Homo sapiens: one gene and its partners. The protein of the gene in region 1 interacts with the protein of each later gene in a biochemical or structural test. Each region holds a gene or a part of one and is shown in the gene's direction. Other genes may lie near its edges.

Region 1 (4,110 bases):
TCTGAAGTTCTGTGAGCTGCTCTGGGGTGTCAGGTGGGTTGCGTTGCTGGTTAGGGTAGCATCTAGCATCTAACATCTTCCCAAGGGCCCAGAGATTTTACTCCAGACTTCCTGAAAATTTTTGAGCAGGCAGGACAGAAATCATAGAAAATACATTGATTTATGACACGCATATACTCTGTTGCCTCTCACCTTTTTTTTTTTTCCTCGTGTTTGGAGATTGAAGTATTCGGAATTTACTTCTATTATGAATATACTATGTTTATCATTGGCGGTTCCTGTAATTTGTTCTTTAAATAGACTGAATATTGTTATCCTTTAAATTTTACTTTTGAGATGCCTATGTTTTCATTGAAGGGTTGAGGATTACTTTAGACAATAACATACCCAAATGAACCCTCATTCACTGTCTCACTTTCTTTTGCACCGGATGTTAAATTTTAACTTCATAGTCCTTGAAACAAGGGCTGGCTCTAAGTGTGTGAGTTTTGGCATTTTAATAAAAATGAATCAGAAGTTAAATTTTGGTTCATAAAGCAAGCGGAGAAACTTGCTTCATGCAGCTTACTTCATGTCGAATTAGAAAGTTTATGCAGAAAACGTTGTGAGGTACAGTGTGCTATTACTGTACAATTTATTAGGCAGAACTGTAGGTTTACATTTAGAATCAGTGTTTTACTTTTTGACATCTGTAAACACCTGCTTGCAGGCAAAAGCATGATTAAGTGGAACACCACAATCCTCTGATCACGGTAAACCATAATAACTCCTTTTGGAAGGCCTACCTGCAACCTGGTGATTGCTTAATGTGTATTGCAGTTACATAATAATATGTATTGTGGTCCTGAAGCCTTATTTGTCATTGTCTTGTGAATACTTTAATTAGCATTGTATTTGCATTCTGTTTGCAAGAACTAATGTTATTTGATTTTTTTTTTTTTTTTTGGTCATTTAAGAGATGTCCTGAAACCAAGAATTTAGACACATCTTGTCCTTGGCTAGCAAGCAGTATTTCCAGTTTGTTGCACACTTGGCTTTTATTAACAATGACAGTTATGTATTTTTTAACGGCTGTGAAATTTGTTTTCATTTGGACCTTACTGCTGGCAGCATGGCTATCTTGTTTTTAAGTTTAGCAATGAAGAAAACACAATATCACCTGTGTTTTGCTTATGTGAAATATATATACAGTATTTAGGTTTGGTATTAAACTACAATATTATTTGACTTTCTAAAGAATAGGTATTTTGCCTAGATTCTATGTGGAAGTGGAAATAAAGGGGATATATGTTGTCAGAAAACATTTTAAAACCTCAGGGTTGGGAGTGAAGAGAACTTGTGTAATTATTGCCTGTATTTAGTTGTGACGTGTTTTAATCTGTGATTGATGCTTCTGATACACATTAAATCTTGTGAATATTTTTTAGTAATAGGGAGTTAGTTGCTAATGAAATACTTTGGGCTGATATTTAGGTTTTTGAACATTGCATTTAATTTTTGTCGTCAATTTTATTAGAAGCACTACATTCCACAGTGGTACTATCACTCTTTAAAAAATTTTAAAAATCAATAATGTGTTTGGATACTACATTTATTATTGTGTTTTTAACTAACAAAGAGATGAGCATGTGTGTCTTAATAGTAATGCTGTTAATCAGCCAAGAAAACCTAACTTTATAGGACAGAAGAAATCAATGTAATGAATTAACAGGAGTCTCTGTTTCATGCTTTATCTAATTAGCCAACTCCACCTTCTCTGAATAAGGCCTTGTGCTTTGTTGAAAAACAATCAGAGATTTCTTGTTCATCTTAAGCATTGCAATTTTATTGTGTTGATATATGATATACATTTAGGCCTCCCCACCCCCAGGATATATTGGAAGCCTCAAAACAAATAAACAGCCCTCTTCAAATAAGAAATTAGGACAGTTCAGTAGAATATGTCTTGGCATTATACAGTAAGGATGGTCCAGATGGTACTCACACGAATTTATATACTTTTATACATCTCAAGGTGTATTTTTAAAACTTGAAATCACTCACTCTGAACCTCTTAAGTGATTTTTGGGGTGTGTGTGTGTGTGTGTGTGTGTGTGTGTGTAGTCCGTGAAGTCTTCTGACACCAATCCTTGAGTAACTTTGCTCACAAAATCACTTTATATAGATTCTTCTGTTGAATCCTCTATGATATTATCACCCCTTTTCATATCCATATAGCTTCATCTTTCAAGGTTTAACTTTTTTTTTAAGCCAAAGAAGAGAAAACTTTCCCTCAGCTTTCTTAACCACATGATTTTTTTTCCATTTCTAACATTTATTTCATTTTTTATCTGTAGTCCATACTCTTGTCCAGTAATAGAATTTTTGTCACTTTATTATTAAACTTTTTACTAATGCAAATGAACTTATTTTTGTTTTGCTTCTTGACCTAGGCTAAGATTATTCTATGACTGAAATGTATTATGGCTGATGAAATACACTTGTTGGTTGATTTTGAAATACTGTAAACAATACAATAAGACATTTTTCTGGGTACGAGTTTGTATGAATCCATGTGTTGACTCTTCCTTCTGGAATGCTGGACAGTTTGCTTTTGCTTTCATCCCAGACTCCCTAGTTCCTTCTCAGGCGCTCTCTCTTCTCCTCCCCTCCTTTCTATCTCCCTCTCTATCTGCCTCTTTTGTAGGGTTTTTCTTCCTCTTCTTGCCCCATTGTTGGTTTTATCCAGAGCCAAGGCCTTTCCATTCCTGTATTCTCTTTCTCACTCCCTGGGTTTTATTTTGCACTCTCCTGTGTGCTGGTGACTCCGTATCTACCCCTCTATCTCAGGCTTTATGGTTGATCTCTAGACCTTTTCAGCCAGTTGCCTATTTACCGAACACTTTTGGGGGATATTCCCCAGGCATTGCAAACTCATCAGATTTCACCGCTACCGCTGACTCTCCCTCTTCCTGTGCACCTTCTTTCGCTGAGTAGCACTACCATCTATTTATTGGTCCAAGTCAAAAACTAGGTCAGCATTCTCACTCTTCCGTCTCGTCATTCCTCATATGCAAAGTCTTGTGGAGTCCACATTCCCAATACCCACTACCCCCACCTGAGTTCAGGTCAGCTGCATCTCACTGATGAACCACAGAAACAGATTCCCTACGGAGTTTCCCAATAACTTAGCCTTGTCCCCTTCCGCAGCTCTGTCCCTACTGTAATCAGAATGATCCTCCTGATGGGCAGATGACCTGAGGTCAGGAGTTGTACACCAGCCTGAGCAACATGGTGAAACCCGGTCCCTACTAAAAATACAAAAATTAGCTGGGCGTGGTGGCGCACACCTGTAGTCCCAACTGTTTGGAGGCTGAGGTATGAGAATCCTTGAACCCGGAAGGCAGAGGTTGCAGGTAGCCAAAATCGCGCCACTGTACTCCAGCTGATCGTTACATTACCTCCTATAAGACAATTTTCTGTCTTCCCATTTCCTTTGAAATAAAATTCAGACCTCTGTGAAGTCTGAAAGGACTTTGGTAATTTGGTCCGCGCTTCTGTCTCACTTGTTACTTCTTTTTGTTCTTCCTAGATTGAACTCCTGTCAGGTCCTTTCTTCTACCCTTCCCTCTACTGTCCCCTGTTCCTCCTCCCTCTGCTCCATGGCTGATTTTTACTCATCATACTGGTCTTTTCTTCAATACTGCTTCCTCAGGAAAGCCTTCCCTGACCCGCAAGACTCTTTCAGTTGCCCCTAGTGTATTCTCTCAAAACACCCTGCACTTTCAGGAATACCAGTTACAAGTTTATCTATATCCCCCTTGGATTGCAGTCCCTATAAGAGCAGGGACCATGTTTGTTTCCACAGGGACTGACACATAGTAAGTGTCAGGTGATATTTTTTGAATGAATAAATGAATATGCAGGAAAGGCTTTACATTTTATTCAGTGTTCATTTAGATTCCCGGACATTATACTCTCTTGATTATCTTCCTTCCTCGTTGTCACCTCCTTCTGTCTCTTTGAGGTTTCCTCGACATCCTGATTTGCTAAACCTTTCTACACCTCAAAGCTCAGTTAATCCTCATTTCTTCTCCCAATACTGTTTCATGGTTTTAAATATCAAGTATA
Region 2 (3,804 bases), on another chromosome or scaffold:
GCAGCTATGACATCTACAGAGTGCCCAGCAGTCAGAGCATGGAGGATCGTGGGTATGTACCCCAGAAGAAAGCAAACCCGCTCAAAACTCCTACATCCCAGGCTGCCTCCCTCATCAGCGCAATCCTGCCTGCTTGTATCCATTGTGTTGAGTGGGACCATTAAGTGGGGGTTTTGGGGAAACTGAGGCCTGGAGGGGGTGGGGGCTTTCCCAAGGACAATGCTGAGCCCTCCCTTTGTCCGCCCACTCTGCTCTGACCCCATCTCTGCCTCCCCTTGCAGGTACAGCCCCGACACGCGTGTGGTCCGCTTCCTCAAGGGCAAGAGCATCGGGCTGCGGCTGGCAGGGGGCAATGACGTGGGCATCTTCGTGTCCGGGGTGCAGGCGGGCAGCCCGGCCGACGGGCAGGGCATCCAGGAGGGAGATCAGATTCTGCAGGTGCTCCGGGGGCGGCTGGCCAGCCCCACTGATCATGGGCGTGCAGTGTGCTAGGTCCTGCCCTTGTCTGTTCCAGTCCTCCCCTTGGGTCCACCTGGGGACTGTCGAGACCCCAGATGGGTATTTGAACATTTCAGTGTCTCCTTGGCTGTGTCATGATTTTGCTGATGTCACGACCTTATCTTCCAGGTCATGACCTCATCGTCCAGTTACAACCTCCTTTTCTGTGCCTTGACCTTATCTGGGTTCATTTTTTGTTGTTGTTGTTTTTGAGATGGAGTTTTGGTCTTGTTGCCCAGGCTGGAGTGCAATGGTGTGATCTTGGCTCACCGCAACCTCTGCCTCCCAGGTTCAAGCAATTCTTCTGCCTCACCTCCTGAGTAGCTGGGATTACAGTTGTCCACCACCACGCCCGGCTAATTTTTATATTTTTAGTAGAGATGAGGGTTTCGCCATGTTGGCCAGGCTGGTCTCAAACTCCTGACCTCAGGTGATCCACCTGCCTCGGCTTCCCAAGTAGCTGAGATTACAGGCATGAGCCACTGCGCCTGGCTAACTTTTTTTTTTTTTTTTTTTGAGATAGAGTCTTGCTCTGTCACCCAGGCTGGAGTGCGGGGGTGTGATCTTGGCTCACTGCAACCTCCGCCTCCCGGGTTCAAGGGATCATCCTGACTCAGCCTCCCAAGTAGCTGGGATCACAGGTGGCCGCCACCATGCCCAGCTAATTTTTGTGTTTTTAGTAGAGACAGGGTTTCACCATGTTGGCCAGGCTGGTCTTGAACTCCTGGCCTCAAGTGATGCACCCGCCTCAGCCTCCCAAAGTGCTGAGATTATAAGCTTGAGACACTGTGCTCAAGATTGGGAACAACAATCTTGTTGTTCATGTCATATGACATTGTTCATGTGACATTCTTGTTATCAATGTCACAATCTCCTTGTTATCAATGTCAGGACTTTGGGTCACAGCCTCATTGCCTATGTCATGACCTTGTCTGGGTCGCAATCCTCTTGTTCCTGACATTGGCTGTGTTGACCGTGTCATGACCGTCTTGTATGTCCTAATCGTGTGGTCAGGTCACAGATCATTCTCTCATGATCTCCATGTCCACTTATAGTCATTTTCTGTGCCACCATCCCCTGTGTCTGTGTTGTGACCTTGCCTGTGTCCTGCCTTCATGACAGTGTCATAACTACCTCCAGGATCCACAGCCCCTCATCATCCCCCCATCTCTGTCCTTGCCTCATCTCATCCCCAGGCTGTCTCCCCTGTCCCTTGCGCGAGTTCACTCACCAAGTCTCACCCCCACTTTGCTCTCATGACCTTGCTTGTGTCTTGACCTTGCAGTGTGAGTTGTGATTCATGATGGAGTCACAGCTCCCCACTTTCCATGTCATAAGCCCACTGGCTGGGTGAAAACTTGATGCCAAATTGCCTGAGGGTCATGGTATTTTTTACTGTATTTCTACTCATTTTGCTTGTGGGATTCTAACCTTGACATCCACGTCATGACCCCGAGAGTAGGTGTCTGTGCCCACAAGCTGTGCAAGTATATTGCTGTCCCTGTTATGACCCTGAGAGCAGGTGGCTGTGTCTGTATATTGCTGTCCATGTCGTGACCCTGAGAGCAGGTGGCTGTATATTGCTGTCCATGTCATGACCCGGAGAGCAGGTGGCTGTATATTGCTGTCCATGTCATGACCCTGAGAGCAGGTGGCTGTGTCTGTATATTGCTGTCCATGTCATGACCCGGAGAGCAGATGGCTGTGTCCATATATTGTTGTCCCTGTCATGACCCTGGTGGTAGGCATCTGTGACCCACTGTGTGTCCATATATCGTTGTCCCTGTCACGACCCTGTGACTACTGTGACTACGTCTGAGTTCTTTTGAGCATTTCACACAGTTTCCATCGAGCTCCATGCCATGACCTCTGTTCCCATGTTTTGATATTGACAACCCACCATGATTTGGTTATCTGAGGACAAGTGCAGTGCCTGTGCCCGTTTCTGTGTCAAAACTCTTGTATCCTTACAATGCCACCAGCTGTCTGTGTCACACATCACACAGCCATAGGGTGATACCCCAGTCGGAAAGCCCTCGGGGAACTGCCGGGTCCCTTGGCAGCAGCTCTGGAAGCAGCTGGGGCTGAGTTTTGCCCAGAGGAAGGTCCAGGATCTCATGCACGCCCAAGAGGTACCAGAGCTTTTTCTATAGCTGCACTTGCTTTCTGGCAGGTGAATGACGTGCCATTCCAGAACCTGACACGGGAGGAGGCAGTGCAGTTCCTGCTGGGGCTGCCACCAGGCGAGGAGATGGAGCTGGTGACGCAGAGGAAGCAGGACAGTGAGTGCGCGTGGATATGGGTGTGCCTGTGTGTTGCGGGGGGAGGACCTGGCTGTGTGGCCTGGTGGTGAGTGCAGGGATGTGGTTGAATCTGCATCTCTGCACCCTCCATCCCTCTCCCTGGCCCCTACAGGGAGAGTGCCCCAAATCTCCAGCCAGGCCCACTCTCGGGTGGGGAGGGCTCAGATCAGGCAGCAGCCCAGGCAGCTCATGTGGCCTCCCGCTCTCCCCAGTTTTCTGGAAAATGGTGCAGTCCCGCGTGGGTGACTCCTTCTACATCCGCACTCACTTTGAGCTGGAGCCCAGTCCACCGTCTGGCCTGGGCTTCACCCGTGGCGACGTCTTCCACGTGCTGGACACGCTGCACCCCGGCCCCGGGCAGAGCCACGCACGAGGAGGCCACTGGCTGGCGGTGCGCATGGGTCGTGACCTGCGGGAGCAAGAGCGGGGCATCATTCCCAACCAGAGCAGGTGGGGACTGTGTGCTCCTGCAGTGGGGCACTTCTGCTTCAGCCTCAGTCTCCCCGTTAGAAATGGGCTCGATTGGGCTGGACGCGGTGGCTCAGGCCTGTAATCCTGGCACTTTGGGAGGCTGAAGTGGGCAGATCATGAGGTCAAGAGATCGAGACCATCCTGGGCAACATGGTGAAACCTCGTCTCTACTAAAAATACAAAAATTAGCTGGGCGTGGTGGCACATGCCTATAATCCCAGCTTCTTGGGAGGCTGAGGCAGGAGAATCGCTTGAACCTGGGAGGCAGAGGTTACAGTGAGCCGAGATCACGCCACTGCACTCCAGCCTGGCAACAGAGTGAGACTCTTGTCTCAATAAATAAATAAATAGGCATGATATCACTGCTTAGCAGTGTTGGTGGTTCAATCTGAGGAGGTCCACAAAAGGCTCTGGGCGGGCCCCATTTGGTGCTGGTATGAGCTTCCTGTTGTTGCTGTAACAGATGCCCAGAAACTTAGTGGCTTTAAACAACACACACATCCTCTTACAGTTCTGGAGAGCAAAAGTACTA
Region 3 (3,804 bases), on another chromosome or scaffold:
GAACCCGGGAGGTGGAGGTGGCAGTGAGCCAAGATTTCACCACTGCACTCCAGCCTGAGCGACAGAGCAAGACCTCTGTCTAAAAAGAAGAAAAGAAAAGAAAAGATCCAACTGCAGTGAGGAGAATGACTTGAGAGGGACCAAAGGGGATGTGGAAAGCCCTTGGGAGGCCCCTAGAGTCATCCAGCAGAGAGATGGGGGTGGTGATGGGGGCAGCAATAGTAGAGACAGAGAAGTGGATGGGTTTGAGAGAGATTTAGGGCTTGAAAGTAGCCAGGCCTTGGTGATGGACCCGAGGAGGGAGAGGGAATGCCGGGTGCAGGTGGGGCTCCTCGGTTTCTGCCCTGCTGCTCATCAGAACAGGGACTCTGGGGAGAGGGAACCATACTGAGTCTAGGGTGCATTTGGGACATCCTAAAGGAGGTCTCAGACAGGCATTTGGAAATGGAGATGCAAGTTTGAGGGGTAACTAACCACACAGGCCAACAGAAGCTATGAGTTAGACGAGACAATCTGGAGAGAGAGGAGGGAGGACAGCCAAGGGCCTGGGTTGCAGTTGAAGAATGCCCCCACGCCACCCCCTACCGCCAATGAAGTCCTCATCCTCCACCCCCCCACTTGCCTTGTCATCTGTGACTCTGGCTGACCTCCCTCCTCTCCTCCTGAAGGGTGCAGCAGGTGTGGGGCTCCCGGGTCTGTGGTGGTCTCAGCCACTCTACTCCCTCACCCTGGAGGAGTCTGTGTGTTGTTTCTCAGATGCCCCATGTAGGTTCCCACCTCAGCATCCGTCCCTCCACCTAGAATACCCTTCCCTTTCCTCATGCCGTTGGTTTGGCAAACTCCTGCTTATCTTCCAACACCCACTCAGCAGTTCTCCCAAACCCATTTCCTGTCTCCGTGTCTGGGGCAGGGCCTGTGTCCAGGGAACCTTCCTATTCCCACACCCCGCTGGTGGCCTAGCTCAGAGCAGGCTCTTTGCTGCCACAGACTAAATCAGACTGCTCTTCTCTTCCCTTCAGTTCATTCCCAGCACTGACCCTTTCCAGAAGGCCCTGAGAGAAGAAGAGAAACGCCGAAAGAAAGAGGAGAAGCGGAAGGAGATCCGAAAAGGCCCAAGGATCTCCAGATCCCAGTCTGAGTTATAGCCCTGGAGCAGCTCAGGGCTCAGGGGGCCACAAGGAGGCAGGTCGGGAGGAAGAAGAGGTGGAGGTGTGGTTGTGGTGGAGAGCACCAGCTAGCCCCTTCCAGAAGGGGAGGCCACATTTGCCCGGCCCCCTGGAGCTGGGTCTGAGCCCCAGCTGAAGGGACTGAGCCTCAGATGGCTGGATTTTCTCTCAGGGGCCTCCTGCTGAAGGGGCCTTCAGAGGATTTTATGCTGGAAATATGACCCTGTGCAGACTGCTGGGGGAGGCAGGAGGATGCCTGCCTGGACCCTGTTGGTGGCTGAAGACCTCTGGCCAGCTGGCTTCCGCCCTTGGTGGGGAAGCAGCAGAACTAGGTTCTGAGCCACGGGTCAGGGTGCCACCCTGCTGCTGGCCCCACTGTGTCACAGAGCTGCCTGGCACAGGTCCCAGCCCCTCTGCAGAGACACAATAAAAGCCAGCAGACCCTTTGGACCGACCAAGGCTGGTGGGGACACTGTGAGGGGACCAGGGCCCCTCAGGGATGTAGAAACAGCTTGGAGGATGCCTCTGCCCCACCAGGAGGGGCCCCAGGCCCTGGCAGGGCAGAGAAGGAAGGGGCTTGGCTTGGGCCTCCTGGTCCTACGCCATCACTGCCCTTGACAAATGATTGGTGTTGGGAAAGGACCTGGAAGTGCCCTGGGACCTGGGAAACATTTAGCTCAAGAAGACCTTGGAGCAACATGATCCCTGTCCTCAGATGTCTGGGGACAGTCATTGAGCAAGCACAGGGAAGTCAGCTTGTTCTCTCTGGCAGCGCTGGAAGACAGTCAACCTGTGGGTGGGGGGCTGCAGGGGGACAGGCCGCAGCCCTGCAGGAGGCCGTGCTCCGCAATGGCTGCCCTAAGCTGCATGGGTCAGACAGCTTCCCGTCTCGGGAGGCCACAGGGCAGGGAAGCTGCAGAGGGCATGTGGCCCTGGGTAGGGCAGCTGCCCTTCACTCATGCCCCTCCCAAGCAGAGGAGGGAAGGGCTTTAGTGAGAATTCTAGCTCTGCCTCTTTGACCTTGCCAAGTCAGGATCTGCCTCTTAAAGGAGCAGAGAAAACCATCCCAGATCCCCTCGACACCCAGCCCCCTACCACTGACAGAGCACAAGTGAGATCTGAGTGTTAGCCCTTCAGATTTGCTGACTGGCCTTGGCCCACCCCTCCCTGTGCTGCAGCTTCATTGGCAAAATGAATTTGATGGTATCTGTATCCCCTGCCCAGCCCTAACCTGTTTCTCTGAGGCTGGCCTCCCTACGGGGCTGCAGCAGCAAAGGGAAGCCAAGCCTTAGAGAAGCCTCATGGAAGGGCCCAGAACATCCTGCACCCATCAGTTACTCGGAAGTAAGGGGACAAGAAGCAGCTGGAAGAGAGCTGGGTGTGGGGGCTGGGAGGAGTGCTGGAGAAATTTCCCCATCAGAAGGCCCCTCACTGGGCAGTGGAGGCAGGGCAGTGTGGTGGGACTGACTCAACAGACATAGTTTCATCTCCACCCTGCCCTTCTCAGGTTGTGTGACCCCAGCCACATGGACACCCGAGTCTGTGAACTAAAGGGCTGGTCCATGGCATTAACAGTGGAGGGTGTCCAGGTTCTTGATGTCTTGAACAAAGAATTGGGCAAAATGCACAAAGCAAGGAAGGAATGAAGGGTTTTACTGAGAATGAAAGTATACTCCACAGCATGGGAGAGGGCCTGAGCATAGGGACTCAAGGGGCCCGTTACAGAATTTTTGGGAGTAAATACCCACTAGAGGATTCCATTGGTTACTTGAGGTACACCCTATGTAAATGGAAAGGATGAAGTAAATTTACAAATTCATTTACAGCATATACCCTATGGGGAGGATATTCCCTGTTATAGCTGAAGCGTGAATTGGCCTTATGTTCCCTGCCTCCAGACCCTATTTTCCTGCATCAACGGGAAAGGGTCAGATTCACTGGCTCAGCTGTTTAACCTGTCCTGGTGCCAGCAGCTGGAGCTGGGTGTCAGGACCAGCCCGCAAGCTCTTCCCTGCCGGAAGGACCAGGCCAGTCGCTGTCCTTTTCATGCTAGAGAGTGGTTGTGGTTGCTGACTTAGCAGAGAAGGTGCTTGGCTTTCCCCTTAACTGGAGAAAAAACTTTCTAAGAACCAGGCCTGGTTGGCAGCAGACCTAGCTTTCTTGGGGTGGCAGGGAGGCTAAAGCATACCTCAGGACAGTCAGTGGTGGGTCCAGCTTCGGCTGGAGGTTCTTTCTACTGAATAACTTCTACGGGCTCTGTCATTAGCAGGATTTGTATAATTTGAAGCAGAGCTGGGCAACTGCAGAGCAATGGGGAAGCCAGCCCAGTGTGGTGGCAAGACCTGGGCAACTTGGGACCAGCCTGGGCTGTCTCTTGCCAGCTGTTGTTATCAGAACCAGGCTCTTCACACTCAGATCCTTGGGCCCCCCATCTCAGAATGCCCAGTGGTTGAAAGGATGAAACCTGGAATTTAAGTGACTTCTCAGTGATGTGTGCCCTTCTCTGACGGTTCCTTGTTCATCCCATGTATTTACTGACTGCCTGCTATATATGCAGAGCCAAAGAGTGGGGCCTGGTCTTGAACTATCTCCTCATCTGCCCCTTCTGGCACCTCCTTCCTCCTGGGCTCTTTCCTCT
Region 4 (3,804 bases), on another chromosome or scaffold:
GAAGGTGACTGAGAAACAAACGTTTGGATTTGGTTTTTAGAAGTAATTTTAGCAGAATTATGGAAGCAGAAGATACATTACAAAGAATTAAGAAGTTGGTGGCCGGCCGGGCCTGGTGGCTCACATCTGTAATCCCGGGACTTTGGGAGGCCGAGGCGGGCGGATCACCAGGTCAGGAAATCAAGATCATCCTGGCTAACATGGTGAAACCCCGTCTCTACTAAAAATACAAAAATTAGCCGGGCGTGGTGGTACACGCCTGTAATCCCAGCTCCTCGGGAGGCTGAGGCAGAAGAATTGCTTAAACCCGGGATGCGGAGGCTGTAGTGAGCCGAGATCGCACCATTGCACTCCAGCCTGGGAGACAGAGCGAGACTCCATCACAAAAAAAAAAAAAAAAAAAAAAAAAAGGGCCGGGCGCGGTGGCTCACGCCTGTAATCCCAACACTTTGGGAGGCCGAGGCGGGCGGATCGCCTGAGGTCGGGAGATCAACATCATCCTGGCCAACATGGAGAAACCCCGTTCTCTACTAAAAATACAAAAAAAAATTAGCCGGGCATGGTGGCGCATGCCTGTAATCCCAGCTACTGGGAGGCTGAGGCAGGAGAATCACTTGAACCCGGGAGGAGGAGGTTGCAGTGAGCCAAGATCGCGCCACTGCACTCCAGCGTGGGCAACAAGAGCGAAACTCCATCTCAAGAAAAAAGAAAAAAAGAAGAAGTTAGTGTTCAGAACAGTAGGCGTAGGCCCCAAAACAAAGCAGTATCCTTGAAAAAGAGAAATTATGCTAAATTAAGAGACTTAAGAAGAAAGTGCGATCTGAAGTAGATATTGTCGTGGACAAGCCAGCTATAAAAGATGTCTTAGGGACAGTTGAAAAATAATCATATAAAAGGGGGGGCATGGTGGTTCGTGCCTGTAATCTCAGCACTTCGGGAGGCCGAGGAAGAATCAGTAGAGCCCAGGAGTTGGAGACCAGCCTGAGCAACATAGCAAGACCCCATCTTTACAAACAGAAACAAAACAGATAAAGGTCGGGTATTCCTTATGGTACATATTGTATAATGTGGAGACTGCTAACTGAAAAAAGAAAAAAATGTATAAAAAATATGTATTTACACCCATGTTCATTGATGCATAATTCACAATAGTCAAAAGGTGAAAGCAATCCAGATGTCCTCTGTGGAATGACTGGATAAACAAAATGAAGTATAGACCTACAATGGAATATTATTCAGCCTTAAAAAGAAAGAAAATTCTGACCCATGCCACAACGCGGAGGAAGCTTGAAGACATTATGCTAAGTGAAATACACCAGACACAAAAAGACAAATACTGTGTGATTCCACTTAGATCAGATATCTAAAGTAGTCGAATTCATAGAAATTGAAAGTACAATGGTGATTGCCAGGGGCTGAGAAAAGGAGAAAATGGGGAATTCTTTCCTGAGCACATTTTCAGTTTTGTAAGATGAAAAAGTTCTGAAAATTGGTTGTACAACGTGAATATGGTAAACACTACTGAACTGTGTACTTAAAAATGGTGAAGATGGTAAATGTTATGATACATGTGTTTGGCAATTAAAATTTTTTTGTTAGGGCCAGGCGCGGTGGCTCGCACCTGTAATCCCAGCACTTTGGGAGGGAGAGGAGGGAGGATCACTCGAGCCTAGCAGTTCAAGAGTAGCCTGGCCAACATGGCAAAACCTGTCTCTGCTAAAAATACAAAAATTAGTTGGTACGTTGGTGGGCAACTGCAGTCCCAGCTACTCAGGAGGCTGAGGCACGATAATTGCTTGAACCCGGGAGGCAGAGGCTGCAGTGAGCCGAGATTGTATCACTGCACTCCAGCCTGAATGACGGAGGGAGATTCTGTCTCAAAAATAATAATAATAATAATAATAAATAAATAAATGAAGCACTGTCCCACATATTAGAAGGCTTCTAGCCATCACAGCCCCTGCTGTCTAAAGATACGCATGTGTATACCTAAATGCACACACACACATAAAAAAAGGTCAAGAGGATATAAATTCAGGTGCTAAAATAATAATCACTGACTAGTGAGTATATTTTTATTTTCTTTTTTGTTTGTCTATATTTTCCAATTTTCTTCATGCATATTTTTTGCTTTTGTAATAATAAAGCTCTTTTCCCAAGTTACGGTCATAAAACACAAATAAATAAGAAAGAAATGATAGGTAGTGAGGAAGTCAATGCAGAGGGCCAACAACTCTTGGAAAATTTGAAAGCAAAAGGAGATGGAGTTGTATCTAAAAGACATCGCTGAGTCTAGAGTACCTCTTTCTGTGGCGGCGAGTCCTCTGAAAATCTGGTGGGGAGAGTGGATGAAGCTTCTGCCCTCAGAGAAATGAGAATATGTAAAGTTGAAGTTTTGCATATCATTTTAGGTGGTGATGGAACTTCCTAAAACCCTTTCGTGACCTCAGGTTGGAGACCTCCAGTCCAGATATTTTTGTGTGTTTACTTATTTAGCTTATTTGTTTATTTTTAAACACACTGGGTGAAGAAAGGAGCCAGTGGAAAAACCAAGATTGAAAGTACAAGAAAGAGGAGAAATTTACACTAATATGGACTTCCAGATGAGGCTGTGATTTTGATACACACATAAATCAATACAGTAGATTTTAAATTGTCTATCATAGGATGGGCATGGTGGCTCATGCCTATAATCCCAGCACTTTGGGAGGCCAAGGCAGGCAGATCACCCGAGGTCAGGAGTTCAAGACCAGCCTGGCCAACATGGCAAAACCCCGTCTCTACTAAAAATACAAAAATTAGCCAGGCGTGGTGGTGCACGCCTGTAATCCCAGCTACTCTGGAGGCTGAGGCAGGAGAATCGCTTGAACTCGGGAGGCGGAGCTTACAGTGAGCTGAAATCAATCCACTGCACTCCAGCCTGCGCGACAGAGGAAGACTCTGTCTGAAAAATAATTAATAAATTAATAAATAAATATAATTGTCTATCAGAGAATGCTTTTATGTGGTCCCGTGTGAGGTGAAGGAAGGCAAACTAAAACAGCGTGAGGACCTTCTGGTTTCATGATCCCACATCTTTATGTGGGAAGATTAGAATCCTAAGAATATGTATGCATTTTCAAAAAGATACTGTTTGTTTTAACATTTTTTTCATCTTTTTGCAGAAGTTTAGCAATGGCGTCTTTCTCTGCTGAGACCAATTCAACTGACCTACTCTCACAGCCATGGAATGAGCCCCCAGTAATTCTCTCCATGGTCATTCTCAGCCTTACTTTTTTACTGGGATTGCCAGGCAATGGGCTGGTGCTGTGGGTGGCTGGCCTGAAGATGCAGCGGACAGTGAACACAATTTGGTTCCTCCACCTCACCTTGGCGGACCTCCTCTGCTGCCTCTCCTTGCCCTTCTCGCTGGCTCACTTGGCTCTCCAGGGACAGTGGCCCTACGGCAGGTTCCTATGCAAGCTCATCCCCTCCATCATTGTCCTCAACATGTTTGCCAGTGTCTTCCTGCTTACTGCCATTAGCCTGGATCGCTGTCTTGTGGTATTCAAGCCAATCTGGTGTCAGAATCATCGCAATGTAGGGATGGCCTGCTCTATCTGTGGATGTATCTGGGTGGTGGCTTTTGTGATGTGCATTCCTGTGTTCGTGTACCGGGAAATCTTCACTACAGACAACCATAATAGATGTGGCTACAAATTTGGTCTCTCCAGCTCATTAGATTATCCAGACTTTTATGGAGATCCACTAGAAAACAGGTCTCTTGAAAACATTGTTCAGCCGCCTGGAGAAATGAATGATAGG

Evidence for each region. The genes of interacting proteins can lie anywhere in the genome.
Region 2: the proteins of ARHGAP21 (region 1) and TJP3 interact in a test that uses a peptide from one of them, tested with the Homo sapiens proteins (one large-scale study listed by IntAct).
Region 3: the proteins of ARHGAP21 (region 1) and CCDC134 interact in a test that uses a peptide from one of them, tested with the Homo sapiens proteins (one large-scale study listed by IntAct).
Region 4: the proteins of ARHGAP21 (region 1) and C3AR1 interact in a test that uses a peptide from one of them, tested with the Homo sapiens proteins (one large-scale study listed by IntAct).

What each region holds. Positions count from the first base shown.
Region 1 is NC_000010.11:24,717,090-24,721,199, reverse strand, and holds part of ARHGAP21 (rho GTPase-activating protein 21), read left to right. Parts: intron 1-4,110. UniProt on the Homo sapiens protein: Functions as a GTPase-activating protein (GAP) for RHOA and CDC42. Downstream partner of ARF1 which may control Golgi apparatus structure and function. Also required for CTNNA1 recruitment to adherens junctions.
Region 2 is NC_000019.10:3,735,884-3,739,687, forward strand, and holds part of TJP3 (tight junction protein ZO-3), read left to right. Parts: coding exon 1-52; intron 53-281; coding exon 282-438; intron 439-2,671; coding exon 2,672-2,780; intron 2,781-3,013; coding exon 3,014-3,251; intron 3,252-3,804. UniProt on the Homo sapiens protein: TJP1, TJP2, and TJP3 are closely related scaffolding proteins that link tight junction (TJ) transmembrane proteins such as claudins, junctional adhesion molecules, and occludin to the actin cytoskeleton.
Region 3 is NC_000022.11:41,824,679-41,828,482, forward strand, and holds part of CCDC134 (coiled-coil domain-containing protein 134 isoform 1 precursor), read left to right. Parts: intron 1-1,019; coding exon 1,020-1,145; 3' UTR 1,146-3,804. UniProt on the Homo sapiens protein: Molecular adapter required to prevent protein hyperglycosylation of HSP90B1: during translation, associates with nascent HSP90B1 and the STT3A catalytic component of the OST-A complex and tethers them to a specialized translocon that forms a microenvironment for HSP90B1 folding.
Region 4 is NC_000012.12:8,059,556-8,063,359, reverse strand, and holds part of C3AR1 (C3a anaphylatoxin chemotactic receptor), read left to right. Parts: intron 1-3,164; 5' UTR 3,165-3,174; coding exon 3,175-3,804.